Linked DNA regions of Homo sapiens. The protein of the gene in region 1 purifies or fractionates together with the protein of each later gene. This does not show direct contact. Each region holds a gene or a part of one and is shown in the gene's direction. Other genes may lie near its edges. The genes, in order: MYBL2, SMARCA1 and SHPRH.

Region 1 (3,655 bases):
CAAATTACCCCTTAATTTGTTAATTTGTTATTTGGCTTGGTTGTCTTTTTTTTTTTTTTTTTTTATCTTGTTACTGGTTTGTACATTTTATTTGTATATTAAGGATGCTACTCCTTTATCATGTAGTAACTATTTTTTCCCAGTTTGGTAGCTTTTTTTCTTTATTTTATAAAGGTATAATTTACATACAATAAAATTCACTTTTTGTTTGTTCGTTTGTTTTATAGAGATGGGGTTTGCCCAGGCTGGTCTCGAACTCCTGGGCTCAAGGGATCTGTCTGCCTTGGCCTCCCAAAGTGTTGGGATTACAGGTGTGAGCCACCACGCCCCGCATATTTTTTTTTTTTTTTTTTTTTTTTTTTTTTTTTTTTTTTTTTTTGAGACAGAGTCTCGTTCTGTAGCCCAGGCTGGAGTGCAGTGGCGCAGTCTCGGCTCACTGCAAGCTCCATCTTCCGGGTTCACACCATTCTCCTGCCTCAGCCTCTCAAGTAGCTGGAACTACAGGCGCCTGCCACCACACCTGGCTAATTTTTTGTATTTTTAGTAGAGATGGGGTTTCACCGTGTTAGCCAGGATGGTCTCGATCCTCCTGACCTTGTGATCCGCCCGTCTCGGCCTCCCAATGTGCTGGGATTACAGGCGTGATTTTTTTTTTTTTTTTTTTTTTAAATGAGCAGGGTCTTGCTCTGTACCCCAGACTGTAGTGCAGTGGCGTGATCATAGCTCACTGCAACCTTGAACTCATGAACTCAAGGGGTCCTCTTGCCTGAGCTTTTCAGAGTTCTGGGATTACAGGTGTGAGCCGCCACACCCAGCCCCCTCCCCCCTCCCTTTTTTTTTTATTAGAGTCTTGTTGTGTTGCCCAGGCTGGAGTGCAGTGGTGTGATCATAGCCCATTGCAACCTTGAATTCAGGAACTCAAGGGACCCAATTGCCTCAGCCTCCCAAAGTGCTAGAGTTACAGGCATAAGCCACTGTACCTGGTCTTTTTATTTTTTAATGTTTATTAAGCATTAAAAATTTATTTTTTAATTTTTTTGAGACAGAGTTTTGCTCTTGTTACCTAGGCTGTAGTGCAATGGTGCGATCTCAGCTCACTGCAACCTCTGCCTCCCAGGTTCAAGCAATTCTCCTGCCTCAGCCTCCCGAGTAGCTAGGATTACAGGTGCCTGCCACCACACCTGGCTAATTTTGTTTTGTTTTGTTTTTAGTAGAGACAGGGTTTCACCATGTTGGCCAGGCTGATCTCGAACTCTTGACCTCAGGTGATCCACCAGCCTCGACCTCCCAAAGTGTTGGGATTACAGGCGTGAGCCTCTGCACCCAACCTCTGTGTATTACTTCTTTCATCTGAGCCATTTGAGAGTTAGTTATGTAGCATAGATTCCTAAGAATAAGGCCATTTGCTTACATAACCACAATAAAGTTATATTCAATCCAGGGAATTTAAGCCTAATTCAGGATCTTTATCTACAGTTTATATTCCATTTTTCCCTGTCCATGATGCAGTCTAAGACCAGACATTGCATTTAGTTGTCCTATCCCTTTAGTCAGCCTTTCTTAGTGTCATGATGTTGACATTTTGGAAGTATATGGTATGGCTAATTATTCTGTAGAATGTTTCTCTATTTGGGTTCATCACAGTTTCCTTCTTAGATTCAGGTTGTGTGGTTTAGCTGGAAACTACTATATAGTCTATATCTCAGCGAAATGCAAATGGTGTATTCTTGTGTCTTACAGGGAAGTCTTCTGACCAACTGGCCCTCCGTCCCTCCTACCATAAAGGAGGAGGAAAACAGTGAGGAGGAACTTGCAGCAGCCACCACATCGAAGGAACAGGAGCCCATCGGTACAGATCTGGACGCAGTGCGAACACCAGAGCCCTTGGAGGAATTCCCGAAGCGTGAGGACCAGGAAGGCTCCCCACCAGAAACGAGCCTGCCTTACAAGTGGGTGGTGGAGGCAGCTAACCTCCTCATCCCTGCTGTGGGTTCTAGCCTCTCTGAAGCCCTGGACTTGATCGAGTCGGTATGTTGGTCACAACACTTCACAGTGAGCACAGAACACCCCCAGCAGGAAGTGCTTCTCTCTCAGGCCCACATCCTTTTGCTCATTCCATCGCCCTGCTAACAGTTACTGACTTGATGCTGAATGCCTAGCCCTGACCCAAGGGCTGGGGACACCAGGGTTGTCAGCATGCAGTCCCTATCCTTGGGGAGCTCCCGGTGTGTGCAGCAGGAGTTTGTGGTGGCATCTGACCTCTATGTATGGCACAGGGCGGGGTGGGAAGGCTGCCCAGAGGAGGTGGCACTGAACTGAGTCCTAAAGGTTGACTGGCAGGTGACAGCACAGGACAGCGTGGTATTTGTGGCATCACACATGGTTGGGTCTCCCTGAAGAGGAGCCCAGGAAATGCCAAGTCTTGGTGCTGGTCTTGGAGTGGTGAGTGGGTTCTGGTTACTCAGGGTGGGGCAGCCATTGAGCCCGTGTTGTGGTTACTGTGTTGGCTGTGTGGTTGTGTCCTTTGAGGAGGGCTTCTTGGTGTGACACCCCGGCTCCTGGCTGCATCGGCCAGGCCTGCTGTGTAGAGCGGGTTTTGGGAGGTGAAAGACCAGAGGCCTGGTCACTAGGGTGGGGAGTTCAGTATGGGGGTCCGTGTTCGCCTTTCCACCCAGGTGTCTCCCATCCTAGAACATCTAACTGCCAGGGTCTGAGCTTAACATACAGTCTGCGTGGTATCCTGTGAGGTGTGTCATTTCTGTTTTTTAGGTGAAACTGAGGCTCAGAGAGGTCAAGTAGTGTACCCAAGGTTGCACAGCAAGTATACTTGGTGGTCTTGACTGCCATGCTATGCTCCTGCTACTATCGCTTGGCAGGCACAGCTCGCTTGTATTGAGCACCCACTGATTGCCGGAGCCAGTGCTTAATGAGTAATTACAGTACCTAACATTGGAGTGCTTGCCGCGTGCCAGGCCCATCACTTGCTACCTAATGTGTAGGCTCTTAGTTGGTCTTTAACAGCCTGTGAGGTGGGTAGTGGACTCATCAACAGTGAGAGCACCCCACGCTCAGAGAGGTTAGGAGACTTGGCCAGGTTCACACAGCCGGTGACCTCCAGGAACAGGAGTTAAACCTTGCTGTCCGGCTCAGAGCTCAGGCTCTTTCCACAATGACCTTCAGCGCCTGTTGGGGGAGTTACTGCGTGTGTGGAAATCCCATCTTCCCTCCTCTGCTCCGTCCACTTCAGTGGTCCTTGTAGGATGTACTTCTGGTCTACCAGACACTGTCGGTGCTGGGTCCTCCCTGAATTGGGGTGTGGGCCTGAGGTCGGTCCTGCCCCCCAGCTGGCCTCCACCCTTAGGAGTGAACTACCCCAGGGAACCAGAACTCGGCTTTAGTGTCTGGGTCCACTCAGAAGCCAGAACCCAAAGACCAAAGTGGAAGCCTCTGTGTCCAGAAGCCTTTTGGTTTGTGTTGTGATTTATTGGGTAAAGGAGGGAAAACCTGTAGTGACTCACGGGCTTGTTCTAGAAGCTGAGTGAGTAACTTTGGGAAGACCGAATCCCCTTAGCTCAGCTTCCTTGGTATGAAAGGGAAAGTAATGCTTCCCTAGCAGAATTGTGGGGATTGGAAATAACTTTTGTGAGCTGCCCCA
Region 2 (3,655 bases), on another chromosome or scaffold:
GTATATTACAATAGTATAAGGGTAGACTTTGTTCCAGGGTATAATCATATCTGAAATCTAATGTGGCATTTGCCAGTGAGTTTTAACTATGGAATATCATGTGGCACAAGAATGGTTTTTACTTCAATAGGATCATGGTAGCAGAAATGTGGAGAGGACCGTGTGTCATTCTGGCTATGATTTTATATTGTTTACTCTTGAAATAACTCTAAAGATTGATATGTGTATATACAGCCTTAGTAATTAATTTTTCTCATCAGTTTACTCTTAGTTTATCTCTTGATTTATAGGTTCCAAGGAATCCTGATATCCCAAATCCAGCTCTGGCTCAAAGAGAAGAGCAAAAAAAGATTGATGGAGCTGAACCTCTTACACCAGAAGAGACTGAAGAAAAGGAAAAACTTCTCACACAAGTAAAATATTTTCAATGGCTGTAATACTTACAGTCAATCAATAGAAAAAAAGAAAATATAGATCACACTTTTTATTGTATGGGCCTAGTATCCTAGTGTGACACACCAACAAAACTCAGGGCTATTTTGTAAACATGTTTAGACCAAATCTCCTTATTTTTAAAAATTGATCTTATAGAATATGCCCTTTTGGAAATAGTGGATAGTATGTATATGCAAAATATAAGTGTCAAGTATTAGCAATTTGACATACATTTTGCCAATTATAATAAGGTCAGTGAATCCACATTTGAATTCTGATAGACAGTAGTTATTAACATATTCTTTTTTGTTTTTTGAGACAGTCTCGCTCTGTCACCCAGGCCGGAGTGCAGTGGTGCGATCTGAGCTCACTGTATCCTCCACCTCCCAGGTTCAAGTGATTCTCCTGCCCAAGCCTCCCGAGTAGCTGGGATTACAGGCACCCACCACCGTGCCTGGCTAATTTTTGTGTTTTTAGTAGAGATGGGGTTTTGCCATGTTGGCCAGGCTGGTCTCAAACTCCTGACCTCAAGTGATCCACCCACCTCGGCCTCCCAAAGTGCAACTGATACTACAGGTGTGAGTCACCGTGCCAAGCCTGTTATTAACATATTCTTGAAAATTTAAATTTCTTTTGTTTATAGATGTGAATTGTCTCCTGAAGTTATATTCTACTAATTTTTTATTAATGGAATAATTTCATAATTTTCAAAATTCTTTTTATCTTTTTTTATAATTTTCATACAATGATGAGAGATTTCTGAAGCTTTTATTATTATTATTATTATTTAAGGTGATCATTGTATAACAATTATTAAATTAGGAAGGTTTCCATTTGAACAAAATATTAATGCTTTTAAGTCATTATTGCTATCATGAGTTTTACGAGTGTTCTACTTCTAAAATAAACTATAGAAGATAAAAATTTCAGCATAGAAGGCTTGCAAAATAAACAAAATGTGTACCGTAGGACATTACTTTAGTATAGAGGGTTGCCAGCAAGATTTATTTATTCAACAAATTTTGAACAATGTGCGATGCATAGTAGTAGGTAATTCTCCACGTTAATTATTGAAAGATAGTTTTTATATTTGTATATTATTTATTATATAGGTTTTTTTTGCTATAACGTAATTTTATTGTATGGATTTTCACAAATTACATTCATAAGTTTTTGAGCCAAATGCCTGGAAGTAATAAAGTTTAGTTTGAAAATATAATGGCAGATGGCTGAATATTAGAACTTACCACAGAATAAAATAAAACATTTAAATATTCATGTTCTATTTTCAAAATGTATTTCCTGAATGTAAAAGTAAAGTTATGGCTTTAGAATGCTACATGACTTGGAGTATATTGTGAATGTACGGTATAACATGAATATACAGTCTCAACTGAGATAATATTTTAGTTTGTAATTAGAAATATAATCAGTTTTCTGCTTCTCCTAGTATATGAATTCATTTTTGTCCTTCTCTGCTGCCTTAAATAATTAATCTTTTTCAAAAAACCATGGCAGTACGTAGGAACAAAATGTGGGGTCATCTGAAATCTTTATCAACTAAAAGCCAGGGATAGAGTTTTGCAGTGTCTGGAGTATCACATTTATGTGAGTTGGGGCTCGAGGAGTGGAAGACAAATTCTTGGTCTTGTGACTTCACAGACATGCTAATAATGCCAAGGGAATTTAAAACACTGGCTAAAGTGTTTTATGTTTTAGTAAAGAAATTGAGTGGCTCCAATAACGTTCTGCTTGTAGAAGTTCTATTTATGAACATAATTTAGAACAGAAATTATTTATTCACACTAGTTCAGAATGATGTAAAGAGCTACAATTTTTTTTTGCATTATCTTTTGGTTATTCCTCAGTGTTCTTTTGATTTAGTGCATCCACATTTCTCTCTTTTAATTTATGTAGGAACAGATCTGTGAAAAAAATCATTGAAGTACTAGAATATCACGACTTCAGCATTTATATTAGCATTTTTATTTTCATGCATTTGTATTTTAATGTAGGCATCTATAAAATATGAAATTAAAAACTACAGATCTTCGAACTATGTATCAACATTCTCTTTGTAATAGAAAAGCAGTTATTTCTATAACAACTCTCACTCAACTTTTGATTCCAACATAAAATATGTGCAATTTTATAAGGAGAAACATTTTAAGTCTTTTAAAGTGTTTTTTAATGTATCATTGTATAGAAGTAAATAGGGCAATAAATGGATTTATTAATTTAACCTCTATTGATAATGCTTAACTTTTTGTTCACAGGGTTTCACAAACTGGACTAAACGAGATTTTAACCAGTTTATTAAAGCTAATGAGAAATATGGAAGAGATGACATTGATAACATAGCTCGAGAGGTAGAGGGCAAATCCCCTGAGGAGGTCATGGAGTATTCAGGTTTGTATATAATTTGAAACATGGTGTTGTATTTTAACGTTATTCATTTATTTAGCATCAATTTAATTGTACCTTTGTTCAGAGATGTTTTAAACTTTTATGAATAAGACATAGATGAGAGTATAAACTATAATTGTATTTCTATGAAAAGGTTATAAGAAAGGTTATAAGATTTATCCTAACAAACTGACTGCTATTGTCTCTATCACCTAGCTAAAAGAGGCAAATAAAGCTCTGATAAAACAAGGGTGGCTCTTGGATAAGCATTGACAAAATTAGTTTCCCACCTTCCCACCTCTGGAATTTGGTCTTCTGGTTCAGTTCTGAGATTCACATTCAGTGGATTGAATTCGTGCCTTTCTTTCTAGGTCGTCCTTAAAGTAGAGAGTTCCTGTCAGGCCCATTTAGATGCTCAAACACCCTCAGAGTTCCACCCTATTCCAGAGAGTTCCTGTGGGTCCCATTAACTTGGGGCTAGCGGGCGTAGAGCTGAAAAGATTGCTTTAATCAATCTGTTAACTGGTCCTCAAATCCTCTCCCTCTCTTACTCACCTGTGTTGTTGAGCTCGACCAGAATCAGTTTAGCTGCTGAAGCATATGGATTTTTTTTACACTTACTGGTTTATTATAAAGGGTATTGTAAAGGATACAGATGAAGCGTGTAGGGCAAAGTATGGGCCAAGAGGGCGCAGCGCTTTGGTGCCCTCCCTGGGCGAAACCTCTTCGTGTTTAGCTATCCAGAAATCTTATTAAAAATAGGTAAATATGTCTAGCAAGTTTTCTATATGTAGTACATGGGACTTTTCTAACT
Region 3 (3,655 bases), on another chromosome or scaffold:
TCTTTGTATTGTGTGTGGTGCTGGTGTGGGAATCAGGTTCCGTGATTGCAGAGGTCTTCAGTTCTTACTTACAACACAAATGGAAGAGCTAAATAAATGCCAGAAGCTAGTAAGAGAGGCTGTAAAAAACCTGGAGGGACCTCCATCTCGTAATGTTATTGAGTCTGCAACAGTCTGTCACCTCCGACCAGCCAGACTTCCTCTCAACTGGTAGGTAATAGAAGAAATCATACAATGAAATGGTACCATTTCTTTAAGCTAGATTTCTTAGAGAAGAAACAATTGACTCATATAGTAAAGGTTTTTTCATTTTAATTGAGACAGAAGTAGAAAGAGATGTATTAATCTAATTTAAAGAAAAATAAAGTCTCAAGGACAAGGTATGAAAAACCATGTGATTTGTTTTTTCTAAAATGGCATATCTAGTGGAAAGAAAAATGAAGTCAAAATATTAAGCTTCTCCTTAAAATTACCAGATTGCTGGTTATGTTTGTGAATATTTCTGTTAATCTCTTTTTTTTCAGCTGTGTCTTTTGTAAAGCTGATGAATTGTTCACAGAGTATGAATCAAAGCTATTTTCCAACACGTAAGTTCTCTATTTGATTATTACCCATCAAGAAAATGAAACATTTTGCAAGACTCAGTTATGTGATATAAGACTATGTTTTCCCCCACAGTAACCTTTATTATATTGTTTCTTTAATTAAATTGATTAGTACACCTTTGGTATTTGATTGTTTAATATGCCCAGTTTTACCTATCCAGAAGTTATCCCCTAAATGTTCATAGTGTAGTAATATATAATTAATTGAGATGCAGTTTTGTGGAGTGGTAAAATCCCAGACTCTAGAATCCAGTGGATTTGAATTATACAGATTTTGCTAGCATTTTACTGCTATTCAAGGTAGAACTCATAATGTCCGGCATAACTTCTTCAAGAATAAAGAATGACACAATCAAATATGTTATTACTTTAATGAAACCATAAGTAAACATTGTCACAAACACCTGGATTCTCAGAGGGAAGCTTGTTAGAACAATAAATGTGTCCACTTTCATCCAGGTGTATTACTATTCTATTTTAGGTCAAATCTTTTTCTGTTATTACTGAAGTAAATAATACATTTCTTCATGTTTCTGTCCAAATTCTGTTTATTTATCTCCAACAGATATAACTTCTCTAAAATAGAAATTTTCCTCACATATTTCCTTGCCAAACGTTCACTTCTGCATGTCAAGGAAGAAAACAAGATTTTTGTGTTGTTATGGCAAATGAATCAGTAGCTTTCTGTTTATTACAGTGGATATAATAGAATTTAAAAAAAAAAAAACTGGCCAAATTTATGATGTTTTCAGCTTTTTCAAGGTTGCTTTGGTTTTTCCAAAGACTTGCAAACATGTTCTTTTAGAACTCACATTGAAGGTTGCTTTTCACTCACTGATACCAGTTACTGTTGTTTTGTTCTGGTATGTTTTCAGAGTCAAAGGCCAGACTGCAATATTTGAGGAGATGATAGAAGATGAAGAAGGACTGGTGGATGATCGAGCACCTACCACCACCCGGGGTCTCTGGGCAATAAGTGAGACAGAGCGATCTATGAAAGCAATACTATCATTTGCAAAATCACATAGGTTTGATGTTGAATTTGTTGATGAAGGAAGCACTTCAATGGATCTCTTTGAAGCATGGAAGAAGGAATATAAGGTATAGTATTTTAAAACTTCCTTCCAAAATTAAAAATTCTTCTTTTTTACATCAATTTTAACTGCTACTTTTTTCTCTCTCCAGTTTTTTAAAATCTTCTTTTGAGATTGAGGTGGCATAATTTCTCTTTGCCTGAAATGTAACTGTTGTAATAAAGGATAGCAAATACCATAATACTCAAAGACATTCTATTTATTAAATTACTAAAAGAAAATCATTATTAAACTGGAACTTATATGAAACTTTTTGTTTAGCCGTGAAAGTGTGTTCATTCTATTATTAGCTTGATCTTCCACTGCTATTATATGAAATTAGAGTTTTGTTTTTGTTCTGTGAATAACAAGCAAGCATCAGCTACCTTAAAGATTGGGGAACATAGTAAATACTTCTTATCCTATAAGTTTGGAAACCATTCCAATAAATAAAGCCCGATATGCCCTTTCATATTTGTACTTTAATGATTCCATCATATTATACCTCTGTACTTGAGATTTCACAATTCATTAATTTTCAATTATTGTTTTATTTGGATTAGTTATCCATTGTACTGCTTTACAGGTGACATAGGTAGAGGAAGGAAAGAAGTGTTTTTTTATAATGACATTTTTATTCAATTTCTTTTTTAAAAAGTCTTGCTTTTTAAAGTAGGATAAAAATTTTTATGCAGAGAGATAGTTATTTGTACTATCAGTTCATATGTCATAAATTGGGGAATACATTTATAACATCAAAATCATTGGTTTATAATAATGTTTTTCTCACACATTACTCATGTGAATACAAAGCACGTTAACACAGTTAATTACAGTAAGCCTTGGAAGAAGTGTTACTTATGATGTTCAGTTGCCCCTGTATTCTTCCTTTCGACTCAGTTTGGCCACATACCCTTTGTCCAGAAGAGAGCTTACTGTGCAGTTCTCCCAGGTCTTGGTACATATTTTCTGCATAACTTTGCAGACCTTTTCACAGAAGAGCAATTGAATGAGCTCCTGCTGTACATATCTACCAGATCTACCTCAAAATGTAAAGTCAGTGAAGAGAGCCTGTCAAAAAATGTATACTGATTGATACCATTTCTGTGAATTTCAGAAACATATATAACTGAATTATTAAGAATATGTTTCACATAGTATAAGTTCAATGAAAAGTGTAGCAGGATAAGTACAATTCAGAATAGTGGTTGCCCCATGGTTGGGTACTGAAGGAGGAATATGTGAGGAAAGAGTGATACAGTTGAGAAAGAACACACAGAGCCTTTCCAAGGAATTCATATTATTCTTTCTTCAATTAAATGATGAGTACTTGATTGTATATTTTAGTATTCTTGTTGCCATTTATACATAGTTGAATATGTGAAATATGTTATAATAAAACTATTTTTAAAAAATAAAACAAGAGATTCTGTCAGCCTAAAACTGGACTTTATAAAGATTTTTGGTCTTAGCAAGAAATCTTTATATTCTGTTACTGAGAATCTAAAGAGGCAGTGTCCTATAGAGATTTTTTTCATTCACATTTCATCCTAAAAATGACCCCAGGAACTACTTGTACGTTAGACACATAGCGAAAAAGTGTAAGATCTCATTGAAGACTTTTGCTTAAGGCACATCTTGGTGGTTTTAACCAGTTTTAATTACATGCTTTACCACTGTGTTTGTCTTTTCTATTCCTTCAGTTGCTTCATGAATATTGGATGGCTCTGAGGAATCGTGTGTCTGCTGTTGATGAACTTGCAATGGCTACAGAACGACTAAGAGTGCGTGATCCTAGGGAGCCAAAGCCTAATCCGCCTGTTCTTCATATCATTGAACCACATGAGGTAATTGGCAAGTAAATCACAGAAAAGGGAACAGCAAGCAGATGTCACAGATATCTAAGACCCATAGAAAAGGCAGAATCAGGGCACTGAGCTCTACTGTAAGTGTGTATTTAATCTCCATTTTTAATTT

What was found.
Region 2: the proteins of MYBL2 (region 1) and SMARCA1 purify together in Homo sapiens (affinity purification with mass spectrometry, with the first as the bait; one large-scale study listed by BioGRID). This does not show direct contact.
Region 3: the proteins of MYBL2 (region 1) and SHPRH purify together in Homo sapiens (affinity purification with mass spectrometry, with the first as the bait; one large-scale study listed by BioGRID). This does not show direct contact.

The regions. Positions count from the first base shown.
Region 1 is NC_000020.11:43,698,017-43,701,671, forward strand, and holds part of MYBL2 (myb-related protein B), read left to right. Parts: intron 1-1,740; coding exon 1,741-2,028; intron 2,029-3,655. UniProt on the Homo sapiens protein: Transcription factor involved in the regulation of cell survival, proliferation, and differentiation. Transactivates the expression of the CLU gene.
Region 2 is NC_000023.11:129,467,962-129,471,616, reverse strand, and holds part of SMARCA1 (SWI/SNF-related matrix-associated actin-dependent regulator of chromatin subfamily A member 1), read left to right. Parts: intron 1-290; coding exon 291-413; intron 414-2,711; coding exon 2,712-2,844; intron 2,845-3,655.
Region 3 is NC_000006.12:145,919,218-145,922,872, reverse strand, and holds part of SHPRH (E3 ubiquitin-protein ligase SHPRH), read left to right. Parts: intron 1-36; coding exon 37-210; intron 211-524; coding exon 525-587; intron 588-1,480; coding exon 1,481-1,706; intron 1,707-3,381; coding exon 3,382-3,525; intron 3,526-3,655. UniProt on the Homo sapiens protein: E3 ubiquitin-protein ligase involved in DNA repair.